Homo sapiens: one gene and its partners. The protein of the gene in region 1 purifies or fractionates together with the protein of each later gene. This does not show direct contact. Each region holds a gene or a part of one and is shown in the gene's direction. Other genes may lie near its edges.

The links.
Region 2: the proteins of MYL10 (region 1) and MIPEP purify together in Homo sapiens (affinity purification with mass spectrometry; one large-scale study listed by BioGRID and IntAct). This does not show direct contact.
Region 3: the proteins of MYL10 (region 1) and ACSF3 purify together in Homo sapiens (affinity purification with mass spectrometry; one large-scale study listed by BioGRID and IntAct). This does not show direct contact.
Region 4: the proteins of MYL10 (region 1) and MTO1 purify together in Homo sapiens (affinity purification with mass spectrometry; one large-scale study listed by BioGRID and IntAct). This does not show direct contact.
Region 5: the proteins of MYL10 (region 1) and PRORP purify together in Homo sapiens (affinity purification with mass spectrometry; one large-scale study listed by BioGRID and IntAct). This does not show direct contact.
Region 6: the proteins of MYL10 (region 1) and D2HGDH purify together in Homo sapiens (affinity purification with mass spectrometry; one large-scale study listed by BioGRID and IntAct). This does not show direct contact.
Region 7: the proteins of MYL10 (region 1) and TARS2 purify together in Homo sapiens (affinity purification with mass spectrometry; one large-scale study listed by BioGRID and IntAct). This does not show direct contact.

The regions. Positions count from the first base shown.
Region 1 is NC_000007.14:101,619,185-101,623,126, reverse strand, and holds part of MYL10 (myosin regulatory light chain 10), read left to right. Parts: intron 1-54; coding exon 55-130; intron 131-926; coding exon 927-1,031; intron 1,032-3,942.
Region 2 is NC_000013.11:23,729,410-23,732,563, reverse strand, and holds the end of MIPEP (mitochondrial intermediate peptidase), read left to right. Parts: intron 1-2,118; coding exon 2,119-2,216; 3' UTR 2,217-2,375; downstream 2,376-3,154. UniProt on the Homo sapiens protein: Cleaves proteins, imported into the mitochondrion, to their mature size.
Region 3 is NC_000016.10:89,152,465-89,156,788, forward strand, and holds the end of ACSF3 (malonate--CoA ligase ACSF3, mitochondrial isoform 1 precursor), read left to right. Parts: intron 1-1,625; coding exon 1,626-1,743; 3' UTR 1,744-3,769; downstream 3,770-4,324. UniProt on the Homo sapiens protein: Catalyzes the initial reaction in intramitochondrial fatty acid synthesis, by activating malonate and methylmalonate, but not acetate, into their respective CoA thioester. May have some preference toward very-long-chain substrates.
Region 4 is NC_000006.12:73,482,237-73,486,178, forward strand, and holds part of MTO1 (5-taurinomethyluridine-[tRNA] synthase subunit MTO1, mitochondrial), read left to right. Parts: coding exon 1-8; intron 9-212; coding exon 213-384; intron 385-3,942. UniProt on the Homo sapiens protein: Component of the GTPBP3-MTO1 complex that catalyzes the 5-taurinomethyluridine (taum(5)U) modification at the 34th wobble position (U34) of mitochondrial tRNAs (mt-tRNAs), which plays a role in mt-tRNA decoding and mitochondrial translation.
Region 5 is NC_000014.9:35,265,154-35,269,095, forward strand, and holds part of PRORP (mitochondrial ribonuclease P catalytic subunit isoform 1 precursor), read left to right. Parts: intron 1-1,573; coding exon 1,574-1,722; intron 1,723-3,942.
Region 6 is NC_000002.12:241,765,418-241,769,541, forward strand, and holds the end of D2HGDH (D-2-hydroxyglutarate dehydrogenase, mitochondrial isoform 1 precursor), read left to right. Parts: intron 1-2,292; coding exon 2,293-2,552; 3' UTR 2,553-3,394; downstream 3,395-4,124.
Region 7 is NC_000001.11:150,497,136-150,501,077, forward strand, and holds part of TARS2 (threonine--tRNA ligase, mitochondrial), read left to right. Parts: intron 1-394; coding exon 395-612; intron 613-1,366; coding exon 1,367-1,529; intron 1,530-1,761; coding exon 1,762-1,899; intron 1,900-2,080; coding exon 2,081-2,158; intron 2,159-3,942. UniProt on the Homo sapiens protein: Catalyzes the attachment of threonine to tRNA(Thr) in a two-step reaction: threonine is first activated by ATP to form Thr-AMP and then transferred to the acceptor end of tRNA(Thr). Also edits incorrectly charged tRNA(Thr) via its editing domain.

The DNA.
Region 1 (3,942 bases):
AGGTGGCCGGGCTTGGAAGGGCAGGTGACTACTTAGCACCTGTGTCTCTGCCAGGCTTTCACCATCATGGACCAGAACCGTGATGGCTTCATCGACAAAGAGGACTTGAGGGACACCTTTGCCGCGCTGGGTGGGTGAGCCAGCAGCCGGGGGAGATTAGGGCCAGGCCAGCCAGACAGAGTGGGCGGTTGGGGCCAGCAGGGCAGGGCTCGCGGTGAGCGTGAGAGGCTCCTGTGCTGGGGAGCACAGGGTAAAGGCAGCCACTGTCTGGAAAGTCAGGGGGGGACCTTCCTGGGGGGTTGGAGAAGGATTCGGCCAGGGAAGGGGAAAACACTTCAGGGACAGGAGTAGCAGCATGGGCCTGGGCCTGGGCCTGGGCCTGGTGTAGGGGACCCTGGGTGTGGGGAGGGGCCAGGAAAGCAGGGGAGAAGCTGAGTCAGAGGGAAAGACCCAACTCCCAGGTTGAGGTTTCTGATCCCTCTAAGGCCCCAGGGAAGAGCCTGAAGTCGCCTATGCAGGGTTTAGGTGGCAGAACGGACGTAACCAGGCCCTGATCCCCTGGGAATCTGAGTGTCCCCTGGAACCACAGGGAATCCCAGCATCCAGGCATCCACTGATCCCCTCCTGGGGCACAGGAACCCTGAGCCTGCAGCCCCCGTGCACCTCAGCTGCAGCTTCTTGGGCCTCAGTTTCTTCACCGTAAAATGGGGATGAGAGTGACTTGCTCCCTTCTCATGAGGCTGGGGGCAGCCGGAAGCTGACTGTGGCCCAAATGCCCCCTAAAGAGTCCCCCAAAAAGGCGTCAGGGCCTTAGGGCTGAGTGGGGGGCACGTGGAGCAGCTGAGTGGGGAGGCTTTGTGGGATCCTCCGAGGCCCAAGCTCTGATCTCTCTTATCCTCCCTGCCCCCACCTCTCACCTCCCACAGGCCGCATCAATGTCAAGAACGAGGAACTGGAGGCCATGGTGAAGGAGGCCCCCGGACCCATCAACTTCACGGTGTTCCTGACCATGTTTGGGGAGAAGCTGAAGGGTGAGCCAGGCTCCTGGAGTCCTGGAGGGGCAGCAGGGAATGGCAGGGGGACGGATGTAGGAAGGCAGGGGCCTGACACACATACACACCACAGGTGGGAGCATGATGTGGCCCCAGACACCAGCCCCCAGGTGCACGCACCTTCAGGGGCCCTGCCTCGGTTTCCCTCTCTTCACCGCAGACTGGGGTAACTATAAAGACCCCTGCCTTGGCCAGGCATGGTGGCTCACGCCTGTAATCCCAGCACTTAGGGAGACTGAGGCGGGCGGTTTGCTTGAGTCCAGGAGTTTGAGACCAGCCTGGGTGATATAATGAAACTTCATCTCTACTAATACAAAAATTAGCCAGACATGGTGACACATGCCTGTAGTCCCAGCTACTTTGGAGGCTGAGGTGGGAGGATCACTTGAGCCTGGGAGGTGAAGGTTGCAGTGAGCCGAGATCGCACCACTGCACTCCAGCCTGGGTGACAGAGCAAGGCCCTGTCTCAACAACAACAACAACCATAAAAACTAAACACTGCCTTTAACCCCTTTGCCCACCCATCCCACTGCCCCCAGCCATGCTGCCTCCCTACCTTCCTACCTGTGAGCTCCTTTTACCCGCTCTGCACATGGGGCTGGGGGTATAGGCAGAGGGTGCCGGAGGGAGGGTGTTTCCAAAAGATGCTGTGGTCGACCCCTGTGCAGGGCAAGTTACTCCCCTTGTCTTTTTCTGTGGTCACTGGAGCCCCCAGAGGAAGGATCGGGGAGCCTCATTCACAAATGAAGAGACTCAGATCCAGAGGAGTCACGACCCCTGCCCCAGATGCTCCAGCAAAAAGTGGCCGGGATGCAACCTCAACCCCAAACCCTGGCTCTAACCACTGTACCCGCCCGAGACACAGCATTAGGCATGGGGTGGAGGGTTGGAGCCATCTGTGTCTCCTTTCTGTCCTGGCCTCGGGGGAGCTCTCCCATAGTGACATCCTGGAGCTTGAGGGTTCCGTGGTCAGAAGGAAGGGCCAAGGCCGGGCACGGTGGCTCATGCCTGTAATCCCAGCACTCTGGGAGGCGGAGGTGGGTGGATCACCTGAGGTCAGGAGGTCAAGACCACCCTGACTAACATGGCGAAACACTGTCTCTATTAAAAATACAAAAATTAGCTGGGCATGGTGGTGGGTGCCCGTAATCCCAGCTGCTCGGGAGGCTGAGGCAGGAGAATCGCTTGAACCTGGGAGGCAGAGGTTGCCGTGAGCCGAGATGGTGCCATTGCACTCCAGCCTGGGTGACAGAGACAGACTCCACTACAAAAAAAAAAAGAAAAAAAAAAAAAAAAGGAAGGGTCAGCCCAGGCAGTGGTCCCTGGGAAGTGAGCACTGTCAGCTCTGCACCCTCAGGCTGCCCCTGCCAGGCCCCCTCCCTTGAACCCCCTGCCTTGGCTAGGCCTAGGGTCAGACCCTGGCTTCCCATTGACTCCTAGGTTGACCTTGCACAGATTTATCTGCTTTCTGGCCTCAGTTTTTTGGTCTGTAAAATGGGCTTATAATAGTTTTCTGAGCCCGCTGTAACAAATTCTGTGAAACCAGGTGGCTCAAAACAACAGACATGTATTCTCTCACAGTCCTGAAGCCCAGAAGTGCGAAATCTGGCAGAGGATTTGGGGAGAATCCGTTGTCTCTCCCAGCCTCTGGTGGCTCTACCTCTCCCATCTCAGCCTCGCCGTCAATGGCCCCGCCCTCTTCTATTTAACCTCCCTCCACCTGCCTCTTTGTTTATTTTGTTTTGTTTTTGAGATGGAGTCTCACTCTGTTGCCCAGGCTGGAGTATAATGGCGCCATCTCAGCTTAGGACAACCTCCGCCTCCAAGGTTCAAGCGATTCTCACGCTTCAGCCTCCCAAGAAGCTGGGATTACAGGCACCCGCCACCATGCCCCGCTAAATTTTTTTGTATTTTTAGTAGAGATACCGTTTCACTACATTGGCCAGGCTGGTCTCGAACTCCTGACCTCAAGTGATCCGCCCATATCCGCCTCCCAAACTGCTGGGATTATAGGCATGAGCCCTCGCGCCTGGACTCTACCTGCCGTTGGATTCAGGTCCTACTGGGATAATCTAAGATGATCTCTGCATCTCAAGATGCTTAACTTACATCTGCAAAGTCCTTTTTTCCAAATAAGGTGACATTTGCAGGCTCTGGTGGACATATCTTTTTTTTTTTTTTTTTTGAGACGGAGTCTTGCTCTGTCACCCAGGCTGGAGTGCAGTGGTGTGATCTTGGCTTACTGCAAGCTATGCCTCCCGGGTTCACGCCATTCTCCTGCCTTAGGTTCCCAAGTAACTGGGGCTACAGGTGCCTGCCACCACGCTCGTCTAATTTTTTTGTATTTTTAGTGGAGATGGGGTTTCACTGTGTTAGCCAGGATGGTCTCGATCTCCTGACCTCGTGATCCGCCTTCCTCGGCCTCCCAAAGTGCTGGGATTACAGGCGTAAGCCACCGTGCCCGGCCTCTGGTGGACGTCTCTTTTTAGGGGCCACCATTCAGTCCACCACAGGGTGATCCGACCTGACATCACAGGTTTGATGGGGTGAAAAATCAGTACTGTCATGGGTCGTGACCTGCTGTGGGGTAGAGCAGCCTCCACGCACCGTGTCCTGGCAGATCCAGAGCCAGAAGGAAGGCAGCCATCAGCCTGGGTGCGAGAGATGAGGAAACCCAGGGCTGGGGAGGGCAGGCTCATCTGGAGCAGGCTTTGAACTTGGGGCTGTGTAGCCGAATCAGGAGCATCACTGGGCCCACCTCCAGGCAGCTTGTCGGGGCCTATTCCCAGGACCATGTGCGCCTCCTGGAAGAGCTCAGAAGCCCAGGAGGCCGGGAGAGAAGAATGCTCTGTGGAAAAGACATGTGTGACTCCAGCCAGCAACTTCAAAG
Region 2 (3,154 bases), on another chromosome or scaffold:
ATCATATGAATATATTGTAGTGTGTGTATTCATGTCCTATTGATAGAAACTTGGGTTGTTTCAAGCTTGGGGTTGTACAAGTTGTTTCTTTGTTGACATATGCTTTCATTTCTCTTGGATAAATACCTGGGAGTGAAATTGCTGGGTCCTAGTGTAGGTCTATGTTTAGTTTCGTAAGACACTGGTTAAGACCTTTTTTCAAAGTGATTGTATCATTTTATCCTTTCACCACAAATGTATGACAATTCAGGTTGCACACAGCCTTGTCAACATTTGGTGTAGCACAGTGGCTCACGCCTGTAATCCCAGCACTTTGAGAGGCCAAGGCAGGAGGATCGCTTGAGCCCAGAAGTTCAAGACCAGCCTGGGCAACATGACAAGACCCCATCTCTACAAGAAGTTTAAAAACTAGCTGGGCATGGTGGCACACACCTGTGGTTCCAGCTACTCTCAAGCTGAGACGGGAGGATCACTTCAGCCTGGGAAGTCGAGGCTGCAGTGAGCCATGTTCACACCACTGCACATGCTGTGTTGTCCAGGCCTGGACAACAGAGCAAGACCTTGTCTTTAAAAAAAAAAAAAAAAAAAAAAAAAATTAGCTATTCTGGTGGATGTGTAATAGTATCTCATTGTGGGTTTGGTTTTCATTTCCCTAGTGACTAATGATGTTGAATGTCTTCTCAGTGCCTATTAGTTGTGTTACTTATTCAGATATCTTCTGTGAAAAACCTGACCTTGTGAAGGTAAAATCTTTTGTCAATTTGTAATTTAAAAAAACATATTTTTACAATGGGTCAAAGGAGTTCTTTATATTTTCTGGATACCAGTCTTACGTGAGATATGTTTTGTGAGTATTTTTTCCAACTATCATTTGTCTACTCATTGGCTTAATGGTTTCTTTTCAAGAGACATTTTAAATTTTGATGAAATCTAACATTTTTTCCTTTTATGCATTGCTTTCTGTGTCCTAAGAAACTATACCTACTTCAGGGTCACAAAGATACTTCATGCGGTTTTTTTAAGATAATAATTTTAGTGTTTACACTTAGGTCTGTGACCATCTCAAATTAGTTTTTATGTATGGTATGCAGTAGGAGTCAAGGCTAGTTTTCTGCCGTATGGATATGCAGTTCTGCCCAGCCGACTACTCTCACTCTTCATGTTGTGACTGAGCCTGCCCACCTGTATGCCCATGACCTGGCCTGATCCTTTACACACAACAGATGCTTCCTTCATGTTCACTGAATTGCAATACAGGTTCAGAGAACAATAGAGGATTCCTGCAATCTTTTAATGCCTTGATTTTGAAAATGGTTTTACAGAATTCATCTCCCAAAGTAAATATCAGTATATAGAGCCTGTTCAACCCTTCAGTTAGCATTTCCTGCCAAGAATGTAGGTTAAAGCAATAAGGTTAATTGCATCAATCTTTGTTTTTGGCTTCTTTAGAGTGAAGAAAGGACATGAATTCAGCTTTTTATTGAATTCTTAATATATGCTAGGCATGGTGCTTCATTGCTTCTACTACATCTTCTTGTTTGATCCTTATAGCAACCTTGTAGGAAATTTGGATGCCAGAGATTTTAAGTGACTTCTGCGTTACACAGTTACTAAGTTGCAAAGCTAGGAGTTCTCTGGGACAGGGAAATCTGGAGGAGAGCCAATAACTTGATTCTGATATAAGATTTCTATAAAAGAATTAACATCTAATTGATTGTAAAGTGTATAGAACTTGATAACAAAACTTGATATGTAATTAAACTTGTTAAATTGTGAATCATCCCAGTCAAAGATAACTAAAAAAAAATCAGTCTTCTAATATCAGTCTCTAAGGGTATAGTCATATATGCAAAAATAATAGCCCTTAGGAAATATATTTAGGCCTAAATCTCTAAGCTAAGGATGGATTTGATAGTAAAAATACATTAAAATTATAAATAGCTCCAAGGCCCACACACTGCCCATGACTTTATAAAATGTTCTTGCATTCAGGTTATACAGCCAGAGTCTTAATTCAGAAAGCCAGAGTGTTCCTCTAGTGTGTGGATTTGATTTTGTGTCTTTGTGCTTCCTGTTGCCTCCTGGTGAACGCAGTTCTGACCTTTCCTTTGTTTGCAGGTATGCTTCAGAAGTGTCCTTCTGTTGATGACTTCGTAAGTGCCCTCGTTTCCGACTTGGATCTGGACTTCGAAACTTTCCTCATGGATTCTGAATAAAAGAAACACTCTACACCTCTTAAATCAAGGTCATGTAGATAATGACTTTGTTATAAATGCTACAGCTGTGAGAGCTTGTTTCTGATTTCATTGTTCGCTTCTGTAATTCTGAAAAACTTTAAACTGGTAGAACTTGGAATAAATAATTTGTTTTAATTATTCTGGCTTTTCACCTGTTTGGCAAATATTTGAGCACATGGAAATCTCTGACCTAGTAACAACAACACTTCTACATGGCATTGTTAAATGGAGGGTATGGGCATTTCCTTAGTATAACCACTCTCCTGTTGAGCTTTTCCCTCTTTCCATGGATCTTTAATTGGTTTAATTAAATAATTAACTAAAAGCAAAATTGTTTAAGACAGAGTTTGAAGCAGTCTTCAGACAGGTTACACTTATAGTTCTTTTAAGAATGATGACCATTTCTTAAGACCACTATCTAAAGTAGGCTTAGAAAATGCACTTTAAATAGTCAATTACAGGCAACCAACAAACCAAGTGTGGTTTCCAAAATACATGTAATTATCTGTACTGTTTTTTCCTGAATGTTTAGGCAAATAGACTCAGAACACAGAGGACTGGCTTGGCAATGAAGGTAGAATGAGTAAGTGCAGGTACAATTAATAAGTGACATACCAGTGTCAAGCAACTGGTGAATCAGGAAACAGACCATGTCTGTTTTTATCTGGAACTCATTTGCTTTACAGTATTGCATACCATACTGTATTTTGGTTAATATCAGGAAATAAATTATTTAATGGGTTTTTCCCACCATTAAAGTCAAAACCAAATTATGAATTTCCAGTTTAAAAAGGCATCTGCTAACAGCCTCTTCTTGCTTCTCACCAAAGACCAATGATGAAAGGAAAGATTCAAAATACCCAAAACTAGGACACACATTCAACCTATTTGCAGAATCTGGAGGAATTTCTTCATGC
Region 3 (4,324 bases), on another chromosome or scaffold:
AGGCATGGTGGTATGCGCCTGTAGTCCCAGCTAGTTAGGAGGCTGAGGCAGGAGAATCGCTTGAACCCGGGAGGCGGAGGTTGCGGCAAGCCGAGACTGCACCACTGCAATCCAGCCTGGGCGACAGGGCAAGCCTCTGTCTCAAAAGAAAAAAAAATCTACACATCCCTCACCACACTGTACATAGGACAGCTGGGTGTAAATTACATCTCCATTTAAATGCCTGTCATAGTTTTATACAACTATAAAATATATACGTGCCAAAATAAATTTGATAGGAACATTGGAACCAGGTAAGGTGACGCATACCTGTAGCACTTCGGGAGGATCCTTTGAGCCCAGGAAGTCGAGGCTTCAGTGAGCCATGACTGCACCACTGCACTCTGGCCCAGGCAACAGTGAGATCCTGTCCTAGAAAGAAAAGAGAAAAAAAGAAAAATGCGATTTGGAAATGTGGAGGTCGAGGTTGACAGCGACACCGAGGTCGAAGCCAGTTGCCCCTGGAGAGCGAGAGACTGGGCTGGGCCGACTCCCACCTCTGTCGCGAGAGGCCTACGGGCAGGGGCAGGTGGGCAGGGGGACTGTGCTGGGTCTCTGGCCGCGTCTGGACGGCAGGCGACACTTTCTCCACAAAAAGCGTCAAGAAACCACGACACTTGGTTTCTGGACTTTTCCGCGGAACAGTAACCAGAACAATCGCCATGAAGGTTCGTTTCTGTCATGGCTCAGTGCAGCCTGGACGCCCTGGACCAGCCCCTCCTGCGCCTGGGCCACGGCCGCTGCCTTCAGGGCATCACTGGTGGGCGGCACAACCATCCTCCCTTTGGGGGGTTAATTTCATTTCTTTCCTCCCTTCTTTAATGGTGAATGGAGGAGCACCGAGCACCACTGCAGTCTCAGTTTCAGATCCCAGCGCCTCGTCCCTGCCCACTGCCCTCGGCCCCGCCCGCCTGCATTGGCAGTGCCCTGGCCCCACCCACCCGTGTCAGCACCGCCCACCGCCCTGGCACCACCCACCGAGTTCTCGCCCATGAGGAAGGGGGACCCTGAGTGGAGGTTTCAAACCTTAGGGGCCGTCCCTGCCGTGCAGGGCTCTGTGAGGCCTCTTGCCACATAGGCTTGTGTCTGCAGGACTGTGCGGCATTTACTCCCATCTCAAATACCCCATACAGGGCAGACTGCCCCTGCCCCACCTGCCCACCCACTCCCCAGCCTCTTCCGCACGCCTCCTCTGGAAGGGGAACGGGCCACAGAGTGAAATGGGGCCTTCCAGCTCCAGTGCGGGGACTTGGAAGGCCTGGCCCGGTGTGGGGGCCCCTCTGCCCTGCAGGCCACTCTGTGCAGGCCTATCCTCAGGTGTGCCCTCGCCCAAGGCCTGCACGCACCATGGCTTCTGTGGTACCAGTGATAACACCATGCCGGGCACCTCCTGCAGTCACCACCCCTGGGCTGCTAGGGCAGAGACAGCTGCGGTGGCCCGGTGCACCTGCCTGGCCTCAGGATGGCCGAGGCGCCTGGCAAGGCTGCAGGGTCCCAGGGGCACCTGTCCGTACTGCTGGGCGCCTGAGTTCCTCCTGCTGGGCACTGTCAGGGCAGTGCGCCTCAGGCTGTGCTTGTCTCTGCAGAAATGTCCTGGCCCCGTACGCGGTGCCCTCGGAGCTGGTGCTGGTGGAGGAGATCCCGCGGAACCAGATGGGCAAGATTGACAAGAAGGCGCTCATCAGGCACTTCCACCCCTCATGACCCGGCAGACTGGGACTGCGGGTCTGGTGGGGAGCAGCAGACGTCCCCTTCACACCGAGAACCACGGGGGCCCGTCCAAGACCTGGCCTCCCTTAAACCTGAACCCCCCAAATCAGGTCACGTAGAATCAAGAACTGTTTGGGATGAAATCACCATGTGGGGTCCCCAGCCTCGGGCCAGTTGTTGCAGCTCAAGGAGACCGTCCCTGGTGTCACCTCTGCCTGGTCACCGCCGACCTCATCTGTGCAGCGCGGTGCAGCCAGCCCCTGGCCCCACGTGCTGAGGCACCTCCCGCCCCACAGTGCCCTGCAGTTGCCAGGCTCTCCAGGGCAGGTCCCAGAGGTTTCCCACAAAAAACAAAGACTCCACTGGAGGAAACAAGCCCCTGTCCCACGCCGTCTGCACGTGCCTGTGCCTCACCCAGAGCCAGTGTCTCCCGGCCCACATAGGAGGTCTGGGCAGCCACCCAGGGGGCCCTCCTGGGAGGAGCTGAGGGTTCACAAGCCTCCCAGAACCAGCCCTGTCCCATGGGTTCCGTGCATTTCCTGGTGCTGCTCTTGGAGGAGAGCAGCTCCCACTGTGGGGACACCTGCCACCCTGCACACTACTGTGTGTCCATCAGCATGTGTCACAGAAAGTGCGTGGACGGATGGCCCCGGAGCTGCTCTGCCGTGACCCTGCCTCACCCCCCAGCGCAGGGACTTTCCAGGTCATCTCCACACCAGCCCCTCAGCCGGTGAACCCTCTCTCCCATCACCGTCTCCACCCAGACCCCCACCTGCCCCATGGCCCCCATTTCATGTCTGTGGCTCACCAGCTTTTCCCCAGACCCAGCTCCGGAGCCCACAGGCGTGGCCGATGCAGAAACCTCAGGAAGGTGTGTTGTGAATGTTGGGTGCACCCACGTTGCATTTACTTAGCGGGGCCAATTCAGATGCACAGGGGCCACATGCAGAATCCAGAAGTTTCTGGACAATTTTCAGAAGAATAGGCTGCCTCCTCCCCACAGCCTGGGGGAAGTAACAGTCATCGCCCAGCAGTGTCTGGCCTGAACTTACCCAGAACATTCTGCCCCCGGAATGCACGTCTGAAAGAGTGGCCAGAAACGAGTGTGCCGGGCAGGAGGCCAGCCCCATCTCAGGCTCACGTGCCTCTGACAGGAGACCAGCCCCATCTCAGGCTCACATGCCTCGCGGACAGTTGGACGTGGCCTGGGGCCCCTGCTCACTTGAGCATGTCGCCCACCAAGCTTGTCTGAGGCCACAGAGCAGCGTCCCAGCCCTGTTTTCCAGGACTGGTGGGTGCCCCAGTCCACGGCCCTGCCCCACCCGAACTCCTGCCTCACGGTGTGGCCTTGTGCATCCCCATGGCCTGACCCCGGGAACAGTCAGAGGAAGGGGTCCCGCCCTCCCGCCAGAGGCCTGGACCCAAGGGAACGGCAGTCAGAGACTACAGTCCAGACGTTTGTGTCTAGGCCTTGCTGGTAGCTAAGGAAATGCCTTCTGTTGGGAAAAGGTCAAATTTAACATAGCAAAATTTTTACTTAATTCCACTAATTTTACATTTGCATCTCTCTCCTTTAATCCTGAAACTTTTGATTCCTAAAAAGCTTACATAATCATTTGCTTTATCCGATAGTATACATCAGTATATCATGCTTTCGAAATAATGAGTGTAACTTTCTGCTGACAATACTACAAACTACAGAAAGCCTGGAGCTCATTGACCAGAAACTGCAGAGAGCCTGGAGCTCGTTGACCACAAACTACAGAAAGCCTGGAGCTCGTTGACCAGCCGGTTGACCAGAATACGGTGCTCCAAGGACATGCGGTTGAATGCCGTGTTCTAAAGTCACGAGTGACTCTCCAGCTGGTCCCTGTGCCAGGCTGGTCGGCCTTCGTGCACACAGTCCGCCAGTGCCCAGCCAGGCCCCTGGTTCCCCTCTGCTCCACCAGCCGAGAACAAGCCCGTCCTGGAGGGAACTCATCCTCTCCTCCCTCCCCATTAAAGCCCAGTTTATTCCCCATCTTGGCCTCTGGTGCTGACCTGGCCTCTGGAGACACAGGCCGGGGGGTGCTGTTTGCGAACTCACCGTGACTGAGCTCCATGAGGATACCACAGTCCCACGTGGCTGGCAGCGCCCACCCCACACACCCTGCCCCTTGCTGGGCGGCCCCATGCCACAAAAGTTAGACCCAGGAGCAGGTGCCCTGGGAGCAGGCTGCCACCAGCTGGGTCAGAAGCCCCTCTACATGCCTGGTGCTTTTGACCTCCTAGGGAGGCTGGCTTGAATCTGGAAAGTCACCAGTTCTGACCCCAGCCAGACACAGGGGTGCTGCCAGGAGCTGCTCCCAGGCGGGTGGCCCAGCTTCTCTCAGGCACCAGGGGATGGCAGGACTCCTGGTGACCAGCTGGTCCCCAAAGCCGTGGCACCGCGCCTGCTGCTGCCAGCAAAGTCCCACACACAGCCTGTGGCAGGTGCCGCCCCATTCTTTCTGCCCCTCCCTCATCAGGGGCCAGGGTGAAGCCCCTGCCGCCCTCTGCCTTCCCTCCACCTGCGGCTTCCCTGGCAGGGAGACCA
Region 4 (3,942 bases), on another chromosome or scaffold:
ACTGCGAGGTAACTCTTTCCTGAGTCCTGCAATCCAGCCAGGCATGGTGGCTCACACCTATAATCCAAGCAATTTGAGAGACCAAGGCAAGAGGATCACTTGAGGCCAGGAGTTTAGGACTAGCCTGGGCAACATAGTGAGACACTGTCTCTACAAAAAAATTTGCTTTAAAAACCACACTTCTCATTATATTCTCTTTCTCCCTTCCCTAGGGTATAAAGACGCTGGCTGTGTGTCCCAACAACGATATGAAAGAGCTTGTTGGATGAAGTCTTCTTTAGAAGAAGGCATTTCTGTGTTGAAATCTATTGAGTTTTTGAGCTCTAAATGGAAAAAATTAATCCCAGAGGCTTCTATAAGTACTAGTAGAAGTCTGCCTGTCAGGTATGCATTTTTAATATAGACCTTTCTCACTTTTTATAGAAAAATAAGATCATAAGATCATTTCATAGAGACATTACCTATGTGTTCCTACCTACACATTTCAAATGAATGTAGCTTGTTTTTGGCTTCTTTTCAAAATCCGTTAGCTGTAACTCATCTTTTTTCTTTCTTTTTTTTTTTTTTTTTTTTTTGAGACAGTCTCGCTCTTTCACCCAGGCCAGACTGCAGTGGTGCGATCTCGGCTCACTGCAAGCTCCGCCTCCCGGGTTCGCGCCATTCTCCTGCCTCAGCCCCCCGAGTAGCTGGGACTACAGGCGCCTGCCACCGCGCCCGGCTAATTTTTTGTATTTTTTAGTAGAGATGGGGTTTCACTGTGTTAGCCAGGATGGTCTCGATCTCCTGATCTCGTGATCCGCCCGCCTCGGCCTCCCAAAGTGCTGGGATTACAGGCGTGAGCCACTGCACCCGGCCTAACTCATCTGTTTTCTAAGTATTAAAAAATATATGGCTGGATGCAGTGGCTCACACCTATAATCCCAGAATTTTGGGAGGCCAAGGCAGTCGGATCACTTGAGTTCAGGAGTTTGAGACCTGCCTGGCCAATGTGGCAAAATCCCATCTCTACTAAAAATACAAAAATTAGCCGGGCGTGGTAGTGCACACCTGTAATCCCAGCTACTTGGGAGGTTGAGGCAGGAGAATCACTTGAACCTAGGAGGCAGAGGTTGCAGTGAGCCAAGATCACGCCTCTGCACTCCAGCCTGGGTGAGAGTGAGACCCTGTCTCAAAGAAAAGAAAAAATCACATATATATATATATTCTAAATTATTATTTTTATTTTTTATATGATTTCTCTGTGGCTCCCATTGAGTTCTTTTGGCTTTCATAAGATTTAGAAGGCTCAAACCAAGAAAAGTTGTTATCTGCTTTCTTTTCTAGTCTTGGAGCAATGTGGAATGATCTGATCTTGTCCATGAGCTATAGCAAGGAAACTCCTTTGTTTTTAATTTTTTTGAGATGGAGTTTCACTCTCCTTGCTCAGGCTAGAGTGCAATGGTGCGATCTCGGCTCATCGCAACCTCCCAGCTTCTGGGTTCAAGTGATTCTCCTGCCTCAGCCTCCCAAGTAGTTGGGATTACAGGCGCCTGCCACCACACCTGGCTATTTTTTTTTTTTTTTTTTTTGAGATGGAGTCTCACTCTGTCAGGAGTGCAATGGCATGATCTCGGCTCACTGCAACCTCTGCCTCCCGGGTTCAAGCAATTCTCCTGCCTCAGCCTCCTGAGTAGCTAGGATTACAGGCATGCACCACCACACCCGGCTAATTTTTGTATTTTTAGTAGAGACAGGGTTTCACCATGTTGGCCAGGCTGTGCTCGAACTCTTGACCTTAAGTGATCCACCTGCCTTGGCCTCTCAAAGTGCTGGGATTACAGGGATGAGCCACCATGCCTGGCCCAAGTTTTTATTTTCATGAGGGTTTCCCAAAGCACTAGCACCAGCAATGAAACAGATTTTTAATAATAGTAACAGCAGGTTTTAAAGAATTTGCGTAATCATCTTTCATATCAGGGGATCTCATTCATAGAAATGACAGCCTTATTCACAAATAAGGATGGTGGATATCTTTGTCCATTCAGACTGCTATAACAAAACACCTTAGACTGGATAATTTATAAACAACAGTAATTTATTGCTGACAGTTTTGGAGACTGAAGTCCAAGATCAAGGCACCAGCAGATTAGGTGTCTGGTGAGGGCTTGCTGTTTGCTTCCAAGATGGTGCCTTCTTGCTGTGTTCTCACATAGCAAAAGGGCAAAAAGCTCCCCAACCCTCTTTTATTGGGGCACTAATCCCACTTATAAGCGCCAGAACCCTCATGCCCTAATCACCTCCTAAGGGCCCCACCTCTAAAAACTGTCATATTGAGCATTAGATTCCAACATAAGAATTTAAGTGGGGGATACTACCAACATTCAGACTATAGCAGTGGATATATTTGTTTACTAGCTAACTGGCTTACACTAGGCACCAGGAAATGGTTGTAGTGTAAGCAGTTTAAAATTGACTCATTTCTCCAGCTGTTTATTCATTTGTTTAAATTTAGGAGGGTTCACATTATTTCAAAAGTTGGACAAATAATTTATAACACAGGCCAGGCACAGTGGCTCATGCCTGTAATCCCATCGTTTTGGGAGGCTGAGGTGGGCAGATCACTTGAGGCCAGAAGTCAAGACCAGACATGGCAAAACCCTGTCTCTACTAAAAATACAAAAATTAGCCAGGCATGGTGGAGCACACCTGTAATCCCAGCTATTCAAGAGGCTGAGGGAGGAGAATCACTTGAACCTAGAAGGCAGAAGTTGCAGTGAGCCGAAATCACACCACTGCACTCCAGCCTGCGTGACACAGCAAGTCTCTGTATCAAAAAAAAAAAAAAAAAGAATTTATATAACACTATGCTTTCTTTTATAACAAATATCACACTAATTCGTGTAATAGGAACTTGCATTGAATGTGACTGATGTGTATTGATGAATATTGAGAGTGTGGGAAGTGATCGTTTTCAGCAGTCTCAGATGCTAACTGATGAATAAAAAGATGAACAAATGAACAATGAAAACTTATCAGCTATGTTTTTACCATAACAATCCCAGGAGTAGCCATTTTGTTTAGATGGATTTTTTTTAAAAAGGTCAGTTTAAAAAGGTAATTTGGCCAGATTCCTTTTTAATTCAGGCATATTTCCCTTCAGGAGGAATCAGTCTACATATTTGATTTGAGAATATTTGCAGTCTACCACTTAGCCTTTCTTTCTTTCTTTTTTTTTTTTTTTGAGACGGAGTCTCACTCTGTCACCTAGGCTGGAGTGCAATGGCACAATCTTGGCTCACTGCAACCTCCGCCTCCTGGGTTCAAGTGATTCTCCTGCCTCAGCCTTCTGAGTAGCTGGGCCTACAGGCGCTTGCCACCATGCCTGGCTAATTTTTGTTTGTATTTTTAGTAGAGACAGGGTTTCACCGTGTTAGCCAGGATGGTCTCAATCTCCTTACCTCAAGATCTGCCTGCCTTGGCCTCCCAAAGTGCTGGGATTACAGGCATGAGTCACTGTGCCTGGCCTTAGCCTTTTTTAGCGAACTCACTTGATCAATGCCCAGACATATAAAGCTAAAAAGATTTTAAAATCCGGTTAAAAATACACTTGCTGCATACATGCCAGACTATGTAGTAAGCGCTGACCAGTTGAACCTGACTCTGAACAGGCATTTAACAGAAGAGATACACAAATGCATGTACATGTGCACCTATGCGTAACACATACACACACACACACACACATTTTCTGTCAGGATTACAGAGAAATGTATTGATGTGTTAGGTAGCTCAGAAATTCCCTCCTGGCTTTGTTGAAGTATGCTAACTTATCCATTCTTTGCCAGAGCTCTGTACTCTGAGGCTTAGGCTTGATTCAAAGCAGTTCTTGAAGTTTGGAGTTGAGAATAGCTCAAAGCCTTGTGAACAGATTTTTTTAAAACTATCTCGAATTCTGGTGCTCAG
Region 5 (3,942 bases), on another chromosome or scaffold:
ATGTCCTGAAAATCTACAGAGGAGGAACTTATGAGTAAAGAGAAGCTAGACTAAAATAAATACCTTTTCCAACCAAGACCCAAGAAAATAAAGGATTTCTGCAAGACCTTTCAACTTGTGATTTTTGTGGGCCCACCAATTCTCATAAAGATCTTTTATATTTCTGATACATGATTATATAATACAAGTTATAATTTTTTCAGCTTTTGTTTTACTTAGTAATATCCATTTATAGCTTAGTTTAATAGGTGGTACATAAAAGTAATTTATGTACTTTTCCTTATGAAAAATTGAGTATAGGCAAGCTCACCAAAGTACTAGACTTCTAAAACCCAAGTCTAGACCTTTGAGGAGTTCATGTGCACACAATGAAGTGGAGGCCAGTGGGAAGTGGAGAGAATGGGGATAAAGTAACTGACTGGAAAGTAGGCTACAGGGTAGAAATCGACAGATCTTTAGTAGAAAAGGGGATTTCAATGAAAGGAGGCAGTATTAGCAATAAAGTCATAACATAGAAAAGTCACTGTCTAGTCTAATCATTTACAAACTTAAAAAGAAGTAGAAGCTTTTATTCAAATCAAAACTTATGTAGAATACCAATATGATAAATATATAAAGGTTGAGCCGTTTGGGTCGAAACAAGGTTTGACATGTATAGGAAACAAAATCCCATCCCTCTTGAGCCTCTCTATCTCTATCCTAGTGGGCCCTAGAGAGCACAGTTTAAAACAGCTGAACTAGGCTGGGTGCAGTGGCTCACACCTGTAATCCAGGTGCTTTGGGACGCCAAGGCAGGAGAATTTCTTGAGGCCAGAAGTTCAAGACCAGCCTGGGCAGGATCGTGAGATCCCATCTCTACCAAAAAAAAAAAAAAAAAAATTAGGCCAGGCATGGTGGCTCATGCCTGTAATCCCAGCACTTTGGGAGGCTGAAGCGGGTGGGTCACCTGAGGTCAGGAGTTCGAGACCAGCCTGACCAACATGGTGAAACCCCGTCTCTACTAAAAATACAAAATTAGTTGGCTGTGGTGGCGCATGCCTGTAATCCCAGCTACTTGGGAGGCTGAGGCAGGAGAATCACTTGAACCCAGGAGGGAGAGGTTGCAGTGAGCTGAGATCTCGCCATTGTACTCCAGCCTGGGCAACAAGAGTGAAACTCTGTCTCAAAAAAAAAAAAAAAAAATTAGCCAGACGTGGTGCACGTCTGTGGTCCCAACTACTCAGGAGGCTGAAGTGGGAGGATTGCTTGAGCCCAGGAATTCAAGGCTGCAGTGAGCTATGATTGCACCTGTGCACTCCAGTCTGGACAGCAGAATGAGATCCTGTCCCACACACAAAAATAAAGAAACCCCCCCCTGCAATGTAGCCTGACCAGCAGGCAGATGTTAGACATTAATGTGTAATAGGGAAGCATTTTCCTCAGGCTTTCAAAGATGGGAAATTATTGTGGATTGTTTTCTTACCCCCTACCAGAAAAGAGTGCTTCACCATTGAGGTGGCCTGCTGGAAAAATCACTCCACTAATTTGAGAGTCTTCCCTTGAACTTTTGTGGTTCTGGCTTTGTGTTTTTTAGCTCTTGAATGTCGTCTCTCAACTAGCCAAACGGAATCTGCGACTGCTGGTCCTAGGCCGGAAGCACATGCTAAGACGGAGTTCCCAGTGGAGTCGGGATGAGATGGAAGAGGTGCAAAAGCAAGCCAGCTGTTTTTTTGCTGATGACATGTAAGTGTTGGAGGTAATAGGTGAATTATACTGTGCTGCAGACATCTATCTGCTTGTTAGTTACCTACTTTAAACCTATCTTTTAAATGCATGTGTATGTGTATACTCACCCTCATTAAAAAAAAAAAAAGATTTGAGACAACTTACAAAACTACGGTTTCTTCTAAAAAAGAAAAACACTACAGTTTCTACGGCAGGATAAACTTAAACAGATGAGGAAATCAGGATAAAGGAGAAGTGGAGGGAAGTTAAGTCAGGAGTGAGATTAGTACACCGAATACATGCCATAAGATCCTAAGTAGATCATTTAGCAAATACTTGACAAACAGGAGCACCTTCTATGTTCTTGGAGAAAGAGCAGTGAAAAAGACAAAGTCCCTGCCCTCTTAGAATTTACAATAAACAGATAAACAAACAGGTAATGTCATTCCAGGCAGTGATTAGTACTATGGGGACAATAAAGCAAGGTAGATAGAATTTAGGTAAGGGATAGGTCAGAGGGTTGTGAATGGGGTGGTCAGGAACAGCCTTTCTGAGGGGGCAGATTCGATGAGGAGTGAGTTATTTGAGAAATGGGGAGAGGTGGTGGGAAGACCATCCCAAATAATACGAAATATTTAAAAAGCCCCGATGCAGGCCGGGCTCAGCCTGTAATCCCAACACTTTGGGAGGCCGAGGCGGGCAGATCACGAGGTCAGGAGATCAAGACCATCCTGGCTAACGGTGAAACCTCATCTCTACTAAAAATACAAAAAATTAACCGGGCATGGTGGCGGGCGCCTGTAGTCCCAGATACTGAGGAGGCTGAGGCAGGAGAATGGCGTGAACCCGGGAGGCGGAGCTTGCAGTGAGCCGAGATCGCGCCACTGCACTCCAGCCTGGGCAACAGTGCGAGGCTCCATCTCAAAAAAAAAAGGAGCCCAAAGGAGCCCTGAGGCAGGCATAAGCTTGGCATGTGTTTGAGGAAAGCAACACGGCCAGTTGGGCTATAATAGCAAGAGGGAAAGTAATAAGCTCTGAGATTAGAGAGAAGGCAGAAACCGCAATGCAGAGGACCTTGCAGATCCTGGTAGACAAGCAAGAGGCCTAGATTTTATTCTAAGTGTAGGGAGAAAATTGCTGTTGAGCTGCAGCTTCCCAGGAAGCCAAAGGAACCATGGTAAACATGGTCAGTAACAAAACCTACAGTAAGCCAGCCACAGTGGCTCATGTCTATAATCCCAGCACTTTGGGAAGCCAAGGCAGGCAGATCACTCAAGATCAGGAGTTTGAGACCAGCCTGGCCAACATAGTGAACCCCATCTCTACTAAAAATACGATTAGCCAGATGTGGTGGCACACGCCTTGTAGTCCCAGGTACTCGGGAGGCTGAGGCAGCAGAATCACTTGAACCTGGAAAGCCGAGGTTGCAGTGAGCCAAGATCGTGCCACTGCACTCCAGCCTGGGTTACGGAGTGAGACTGTCTCAAAAAAAAAAAAAAAAAAAAACAACCCACAAACCTACAGTAGCCATAAAGTAAGAAGAAAATAGCTAATTAGGAGGAGTACAGATCCGCAACAGCACATATGAACTCAATGCACTGTTGTGCATTGAGGTTTTCATATTGTTTGTGCTAACAAAAGTTTATTTCCAACTTTGCTTAATGAGTGTATATGCCTCAGCCCCAAATCTAGGTTTCATAGTCTGAATGTGATAACTTCAAGATTTGTCAGTATTCTCCAAATCATTTATTTTATTGAGACGGAGTCTCACTGGGTCACCCAGGCTGGAGTACAGTGGCACAATCTTTGCTCATGGCAACCTCCACCTCCCGGGTTCAAGCGATTCTCCTGCCTCAGCCTCCCAAGTAGTTGGGATTACAGGCACCCGCCACCATGCCCAACTAATTTTTGTATTTTTAGTGGAGATGGGGTTTCACCATGTTGGCCAGGCTGGTCTCGAACTCCTGACCTCATGATCCACCCACCTCAGCCTCCCAAAGTGCTAGGATTACAGGCATGAGCCACCTCGCCTGGCCCCCAAATCATTTATTATTTAAAAAGTACAGTAGCTCTCAATCATAAAGCAAGGGAGAAGCAAACCTCTCATCCAGTTCCCAAACCACATCCCTTCTTTTTTTAGCTGGAAGATGGTGCTTCCATTTCTCCAAGAGCAGAAGACCTAATGGCAACATTGGGTAGACAGTAAGATTGTAGGCTTGGGAATTAGTTTACCCAGGT
Region 6 (4,124 bases), on another chromosome or scaffold:
GAGCCCCGGGCTGAGGGAGTAGGAAGAGGGGGGAGAACTTGGGGAGATGGGAGCCCCGGGCTGAGGGATTAGGAAGAGGGGGGAGAAGTTGGGGAGATGGGAGCCCCGGGCTGAGGGAGTAGGAAGAGGGGGGAGAAGTTGGGGAGATGGGAGCCCCGGGCTGAGGGAGTAGGAAGAGGGGGGAGAAGTTGGGGAGATGGGAGCCCCGGGCTGAGGGAGTAGGAAGAGGGGGGAGAAGTTGGGGAGATGGGAGCCCCGGGCTGAGGGAGTAGGAAGAGGGGGGAGAAGTTGGGGAGATGGGAGCCCCGGGCTGAGGGAGTAGGAAGAGGGGGGAGAAGTTGGGGAGATGGGAGCCCCGGGCTGAGGGAGTAGGAAGAGGGGGGAGAAGGTGGGGAGATGGGAGCCCCGGGCTGAGGGAGTAGGAAGAGGGGGGAGAAGTTGGGGAGATGGGAGCCCCGGGCTGAGGGAGTAGGAAGAGGGGGGAGAAGTTGGGGAGATGGGAGCCCCGGGCTGAGGGAGTAGGAAGAGGGGGGAGAAGTTGGGGAGATGGGAGCCCCGGGCTGAGGGAGTAGGAAGAGGGGGGAGAAGTTGGGGAGATGGGAGCCCCGGGCTGAGGGAGTAGGAAGAGGGGGGAGAACTTGGGGAGATGGGAGCCCCGGGCTGAGTGAGTAGGAAGAGGGGGGAGAACTTGGGGAGATGGGAGCCCCGGGCTGAGGGAGTAGGAAGAGGGGGGAGAAGTTGGGGAGATGGGAGCCCCGGGCTGAGGGAGTAGGAAGAGGGGGGAGAAGTTGGGGAGATGGGAGCCCCGGGCTGAGGGAGTAGGAAGAGGGGGGAGAAGTTGGGGAGATGGGAGCCCCGGGCTGAGGGAGTAGGAAGAGGGGGGAGAAGTTGGGGAGATGGGAGCCCCGGGCTGAGGGAGTAGGAAGAGGGGGGAGAAGGTGGGGAGATGGGAGCCCCGGGCTGAGGGAGTAGGAAGAGGGGGGAGAACTTGGGGAGATGGGAGCCCCGGGCTGAGGGAGTAGGAAGAGGGGGGAGAACTTGGGGAGATGGGAGCCCCGGGCTGAGGGAGTAGGAAGAGGGGGGAGAAGTTGGGGAGATGGGAGCCCCGGGCTGAGGGAGTAGGAAGAGGGGGGAGAAGTTGGGGAGATGGGAGCCCCGGGCTGAGGGAGTAGGAAGAGGGGGGAGAAGTTGGGGAGATGGGAGCCCCGGGCTGAGGGAGTAGGAAGAGGGGGGAGAAGTTGGGGAGATGGGAGCCCCGGGCTGAGGGAGTAGGAAGAGGGGGGAGAAGTTGGGGAGATGGGAGCCCCGGGCTGAGGGAGTAGGAAGAGGGGGGAGAACTTGGGGAGATGGGAGCCCCGGGCTGAGGGAGTAGGAAGAGGGGGGAGAACTTGGGGAGATGGGAGCCCCGGGCTGAGGGAGTAGGAAGAGGGGGGAGAACTTGGGGAGATGGGAGCCCCGGGCTGAGGGAGTAGGAAGAGGGGGGAGAAGTTGGGGAGATGGGAGCCCCGGGCTGAGGGAGTAGGAAGAGGGGGGAGAAGTTGGGGAGATGGGAGCCCCGGGCTGAGGGAGTAGGAAGAGGGGGGAGAAGTTGGGGAGATGGGAGCCCCGGGCTGAGGGAGTAGGAAGAGGGGGGAGAAGTTGGGGAGATGGGAGCCCCGGGCTGAGGGAGTAGGAAGAGGGGGGAGAAGTTGGGGAGATGGGAGCCCCGGGCTGAGGGAGTAGGAAGAGGGGGGAGAAGTTGGGGAGATGGGAGCCCCGGGCTGAGGGAGTAGGAAGAGGGGGGAGAAGTTGGGGAGATGGGAGCCCCGGGCTGAGGGAGTAGGAAGAGGGGGGAGAAGTTGGGGAGATGGGAGCCCCGGGCTGAGGGAGTAGGAAGAGGGGGGAGAAGTTGGGGAGATGGGAGCCCCGGGCTGAGGGAGTAGGAAGAGGGGGGAGAAGTTGGGGAGATGGGAGCCCCGGGCTGAGGGAGTAGGAAGAGGGGGGAGAAGTTGGGGAGATGGGAGCCCCGGGCTGAGGGAGTAGGAAGAGGGGGGAGAAGTTGGGGAGATGGGAGCCCCGGGCTGAGGGAGTAGGAAGAGGGGGGAGAACTTGGGGAGAGAAGCAGGGAGAAGCCAAGGTAGCAGCGGCCCCAGAGGAGGGGTCGGCACGTCCAGGGCGAGTGGCATGAGGGTGAGGCTCAGCCGGGGGTCTCGGGGTTGCTGGGGAGGGGATCTTGGGAGGGGCTGTTGGGGGAGGAGTGGGGTCCTGGGGGCTGCCCTGCCCAGCCTGACCCATGTGCCCTTGTCCCTCCAGGAGATGGTAACCTGCACCTCAATGTGACGGCGGAGGCCTTCAGCCCCTCGCTCCTGGCTGCCCTGGAGCCCCACGTGTACGAGTGGACGGCCGGGCAGCAGGGCAGCGTCAGCGCGGAGCACGGAGTGGGCTTCAGGAAGAGGGACGTCCTGGGCTACAGCAAGCCACCGGGGGCCCTGCAGCTCATGCAGCAGCTCAAGGCCCTGCTGGACCCCAAGGGCATCCTCAACCCCTACAAGACGCTGCCCAGCCAGGCCTGACGGCCACTCCTGCTGCTGCCAAGGCCCACTGGGGGTCGGCGGGTGGCTCTCGGGCGGGGGTGTTGCGGTGGCTCTGAGGGATGAGCCGGCAGTGGGCAGGGGACCAGGCACCTGGTTGAAGGGACTGGGAGCCCGCACTGGGGAACTGCCGGACGCAGGCCCTCGGGCAGGAGCATCTGGCAGAGTGGGGGGCGTGGCAGGCACCCTCCTTTGCAGGGCGAGGTGGGGCCTCTGCAGCCATCCTGGACAGGCCGGGGTGGCGGCAGCTTTGCCCACGTGGAAGCGGGGTGGGTCTCACTTGCGTGGTGGCCCCTGGCCCCATCTTGCCTGCTGCGGCCTGGGGAGCAGGCGCTGGGTGGTGGTTCTGCCTGCTTGCTGCTCGTTCCCCGGGCATGCGTGGGCAGCGGGGGGCATGCGTGGGCAGCAGGGGGCGTGGGCAGCGGGGGCACGGGCAGGACCACGTGGGCCGTGATCGTGGGTTGCCGAGAGGACCTGAGCGCTGCGGCTCTGCTGAATGGAGCCGGGTCCCTCAGGCCGTGGACGCCCTCGGGAGGGGGGTGACTGTGGCTTGTGTCTGGACAGGAATGTGTCATTTCCCACATCTTCTAGAGGGCTGCCAGCTGGGAAGACAGTTATCAGGGCAAGCTGTGCTCTGAGTTTCGGGTTCTGCTCCTACAAAGAACGTGCGGTGCTGCGGGCGAGGGCCCCGGCACGGACAAGGGCCACTGCAGAGTGTGTTTCTGCTCGTCAGCTGCCCTGGGCAGCGGATGGGCTGGGCGATGCAGCTGGATGCACATCTCATTCTGTCATGAATGTCCAGTAAAAATCTGAATTGGTTGCAACCTTCTCTTTGCTTCTGTTACTGGAAAATCATCTTTCAGAGCCCATTGTGAAGGGCCTGTGCATCCCATTCCCACAGCCCCTGGACCACTGGGGCCATAGTGTGGCCGGGCCTGACACTACTGTGACTGTCACTGTGCCTCCTGTCCCCATGCACTGTCTGGTGGCAGCTGAGCTCCCACCGGCTGCACAGGGCAGGCCTGGACATGGAACGGGCAACTCATAACCCTTGGTGGCCCTGGAGGCCCTCAGCAGCTGGGCCTGACCGAGGTGTATCCACGGGCCCCTCCTGTCCCTGTGGGTGTCGAGGACCTCGGATCCTGCTCAGAGGGGGAAACATACCTCTGACCCGCTGCCCTGCAGAGCCCGCCTGCCTAGCCAGGGCCTCTGTGTGGACAGGCCACGTCCTCCTGGTGGAGGTCCTCGGGGGATGGGTGGGGGCCTTGGTCCAGCATGATTTTTTTTTTTTGAGACAGGATCTCACTCTGTCACCCAGGCTGGAGTGCAGGGGTATAGTCACAGCTCAGTGCAGCCTCCACCTCCTGGGCTCAAGTGATCCTCCCACCTCAGCCTCCTGAGTAGCTGGGAGTACAGGTGTGAGCCATCATGCCCAGATAATTTTTTTTTTTTTTTTTGAGACAGAGTCTTGTTCTGTCACCCAGGCTGGAGTGCAGTGGTGCGATCTTGGCTCACTGCAAGTTCCGCCTCCCGGGTTCACGCCATTCTCCTTCC
Region 7 (3,942 bases), on another chromosome or scaffold:
AATTAGCCAGTGTGGTGGCAGCGCCTGTAGTCCCAGCTACTGGGGAGGCTGAGGCAGGAGAATCCCTTGAACCCAGGAAGGGGAGGTTGCAGTGAACTGAGATTGAGCCACTGCACTCCAGCCTGTGTGATACAGTGAGACTCCGTCTTGAAGAGAAAAAAAAAGGTGGGGGGGCTGGTTTGGAATCATAAACATAAATATTGAAAGTGCTGGTGACCTTTAATACTACAATTGTGTGGTCTGCAGTCGGGGAGCATAGAGATGGGACCTGGTATTTAATAGGTTGTGGTTGCAATCAGCATGGCCTGAGGGCCCAGGAAGATCACACAGCTGACACCCTACCTGCTTTCCTTCCAGTTACTCTGACCTTCCATGTCTGTACCCTCCTCTCCAGGCTGAGTATGCCCATCGTGGTTTCTCCGAGGTGAAAACTCCCACACTGTTTTCTACGAAGCTCTGGGAACAGTCAGGGCACTGGGAGCATTATCAGGAAGACATGTTTGCCGTGCAGCCCCCAGGCTCTGACAGGCCTCCCAGCTCCCAGAGTGACGATTCTACCAGGCATATCACAGATACACTCGCCCTCAAGCCTATGAACTGCCCTGCACACTGGTAAGCTGGGAGCTAGGGTTACAATCAGGTTGCTAAATATTAAATAATAGAAAGCACCTTGGGGCCGGGCACGGTGGCTCACGCCTGTAATCCCAACACTTTGGGAGGCCGAGGCGGGCGGATCACCTGAGGTCGGGAGTTTGAGACCAGCCTGACCAACATGGAGAAACCCTGTCTCTACTAAAAATACAAAAAATTAGCCGGGCACGGTGGCGGGCGCCTGTAGTCCCAGCTACTCAGGAGGCTGAGGCAGGCTAATGGCGTGAACCCAGGAGGTGGAGCTTGCAGTGAGCCGAGATCGCGCCACTGCACTCCAGCCTGGGTGACACAGCGAGACTCCATCTCAAAAAAAAAAAAAAAAAGAAAGCACCTTGGAAAGAGTATTGGGACACCGATTTGAGCCTACAGTCTTCCCCCTAGCTAACCATGTAAATTTGGGAAACTCATTTTACCTCTTTAGGTCTCAGTCTCCTTAAAGTTGCTATCTAAGGCTCCTCCTTCAGCTCAGTGACCATCACAGAACAGGGAAATGGTAAACGATGTCTGTTATTGTGTTACTGAGAAATCCACTTTTGAACCTCAGGGCTCAGACTGTGATGAGTGGGATTGACAGGACTCAGTGGGAGGATGTGCTGAGGCTGGAGAGGGTTATAGCAGATGGTGCAGAGAAAGTAGGCAAGCAGATTGGGTGGAGGAGCAGTCTTCGGGGGCTAGTCCTCCCTATGGCCCTGACCCCTCTGCACCCCAACCTCAGCCTGATGTTCGCCCACCGGCCCAGATCCTGGCGGGAACTGCCCCTGCGACTAGCTGACTTTGGGGCTCTACACCGGGCCGAAGCCTCTGGTGGTCTGGGGGGACTGACCCGACTGCGGTGCTTCCAGCAGGATGACGCTCACATCTTCTGTACAACAGATCAGGTGGCCTTTCCCTGGCTCCACCAAAGCTTTTCTAAACCACCTTTCTTTCTCCCTATGAACCTGCAAACCCCTGATCTTTATTTGCCCCCTGTATGTACTATAATTCAGCTACATTCTACCCCCAGCTTGCTTCCGCTTCCTCTCTGTTTTTGCCCTTTGTTTTCCTCAAACTGCCAGCATCCCTGATCTCTAGCGGGCTCACAGCTCACTGACCCTTATTTCCTGCCCCTAGCTGGAAGCAGAGATCCAAAGCTGTCTTGATTTCCTCCGTTCCGTCTATGCCGTTCTTGGCTTCTCCTTCCGCCTGGCACTGTCCACCCGGCCATCTGGCTTCCTGGGGGACCCTTGCCTTTGGGACCAGGCCGAACAGGTGAGTAGGAGGTAGAGAAATAGAGGCAGATAAACCACTCTCTGGTGGGAAGGAGTGGAGAATACAGTAATCAAGGTTCTCAGAGGCATCTGGTGAGTGGGTCATTTGTTGGGGACTGACCGGATGTGTTGCTTTTGAAGTCTAAGATGATGTATTCCACTCTTGTCTCATTCCTTCAAAGGTCCTTAAACAGGCCCTGAAGGAATTTGGAGAACCCTGGGACCTCAACTCTGGAGATGGTGCCTTCTATGGACCTAAGGTAAGCTTGGGACCCTGGTTAGTGTTGTATTTATTTATTTTTTGCTTTGTTTTAGTAAATATTTAATAGATACAAAGAATTTTTTTTTTTGAGACAGTCTCACTCTGTCACCCAGGCTAAAATGCAGTGGTGTGATCTCAGCTCACTGCAACCTCCAGCTCCCTGGTTCAAGCAATTCCCCTGCCTCAGCCTCCCGAGTAGCTGGGATTACAGGTGTACGCCACCACACCCGGCTAATTTTTTTGTATTTTTAATAGAGATGGGGTTTCGCCATGTTGGCCAGACTGGTCTCGAACTCCTGACCTCAGGCAATCCACCCCACTTGGCCTCCCAAAGTGCTGGGATTACAGGCGTGAGCCACCGCACCCGGCCACAAAGAAATATTTTTAAACTTACGTAGGATATAAAGAAAAACAATATACTTTCTGCCCTCTTGGCATCTGCAATCTAGTGAGGGCTGCTGAAGGTAAATAGGCCATATCAGTGCTGCGAGATCTGTGCTGTGTAGGTACCAAGAGAGCACGTTAGCTGGGGTTAGCATTACTCGGGGAGGTTACAAAAGGTGTCCTGCAGGAATCACTTTCCAATCTGAAAGGTGAGTGTTGGCCAAGTAAAGATGTGTTTCAGGAGGGAACAGTGTAGGCAGAGGCTGGGGATAAGGATGAAAACACATGGCAGACCAATCTGGGCAACACAGGGAGACCCTGTGTCTACCAAAAAAAAAAAAAAAAATTAGCCGGGTGCAGTAGCTTGTGCCTGTGGTCCCAGCTACCCAGCAGGCTGAGATGGGAGGATCACCTGGTCCCAGGAGGTAGAGGCTGCAGTGAGCCGAGATTGCGCCCCACTGCACTCCAGCCTGGGTGATAGAGTGAGACCCTGTCTCAAAAAAAAAGAAGCCAAGGGGAAAAAAGGACTGAAAAGTGTCCACTGGATTTAGTAAAAAGGCTGCTGGATTTCAAAGGACCATTTTCAGTAAAGTAGGGCCTGAGGGTGGAGTTAGAAGATGAATAAATGAGGCCTGTGTGGTGGCTCACGCCTGTAATCCCAGCACTTTGGGAGGCCGACGTGGGTGGATCACTTGAGGTCAGGAGTTCGAGACCAGCCTGGCCAACGTGGCGAAACCCCATCTCTACTAAAAATATAAAAATTGGCCGGGTGAGGTGTTAGGACACACCTGTAGTCCCAACTACTCAGTAGCCTGAGGCAGGAGAATCGCTGAACCTGGGAAGTTGCAGTGAGCCAAGATCACACCACTGCACCCTAGCCTGGGCAACAGAGCAAGACTCCGTCCCAAAAAGTAAAAATAAAACAGGCTGGGGGCGGTGGCTCACGCCTATAATCCCAGCACTTTGGGAGGCTGAGGCAGGTGGATCACCTGAGGTCAGGGGTTTGAGACCCTGTCTCTACTAAAAATACAAAAATTAGCCCAGCGTGGTGACAGGCACCTGTAAACCCAGGAGGCGGAGGTTGCAGTGAGCCGAGGTCGCACCACTGCACTCCAGCCTGGGCGACAGAGTGAGGCTCCATCTCAGAAAAATAATAATAAAATGAAAAATAAAATAAATGCTATGATGAGAGGAAGTCTATTTGGAGGGAGAAGTTGTTGTAAAGGGAAGTTCCTGGAGAGGTTTAAGGTAGGATTGAGAAGCCTTCATAGAAGGGATCACCATTGCCATTGTATCCAGGGTGGAAGGAAAGGCTGAAGGTAGATGCAAGGAAGTTTGTAGGCATGGTAACAGGAAGTTGAGGCTCTTCCCATCCCATGGTATCAATTATCTGAATTC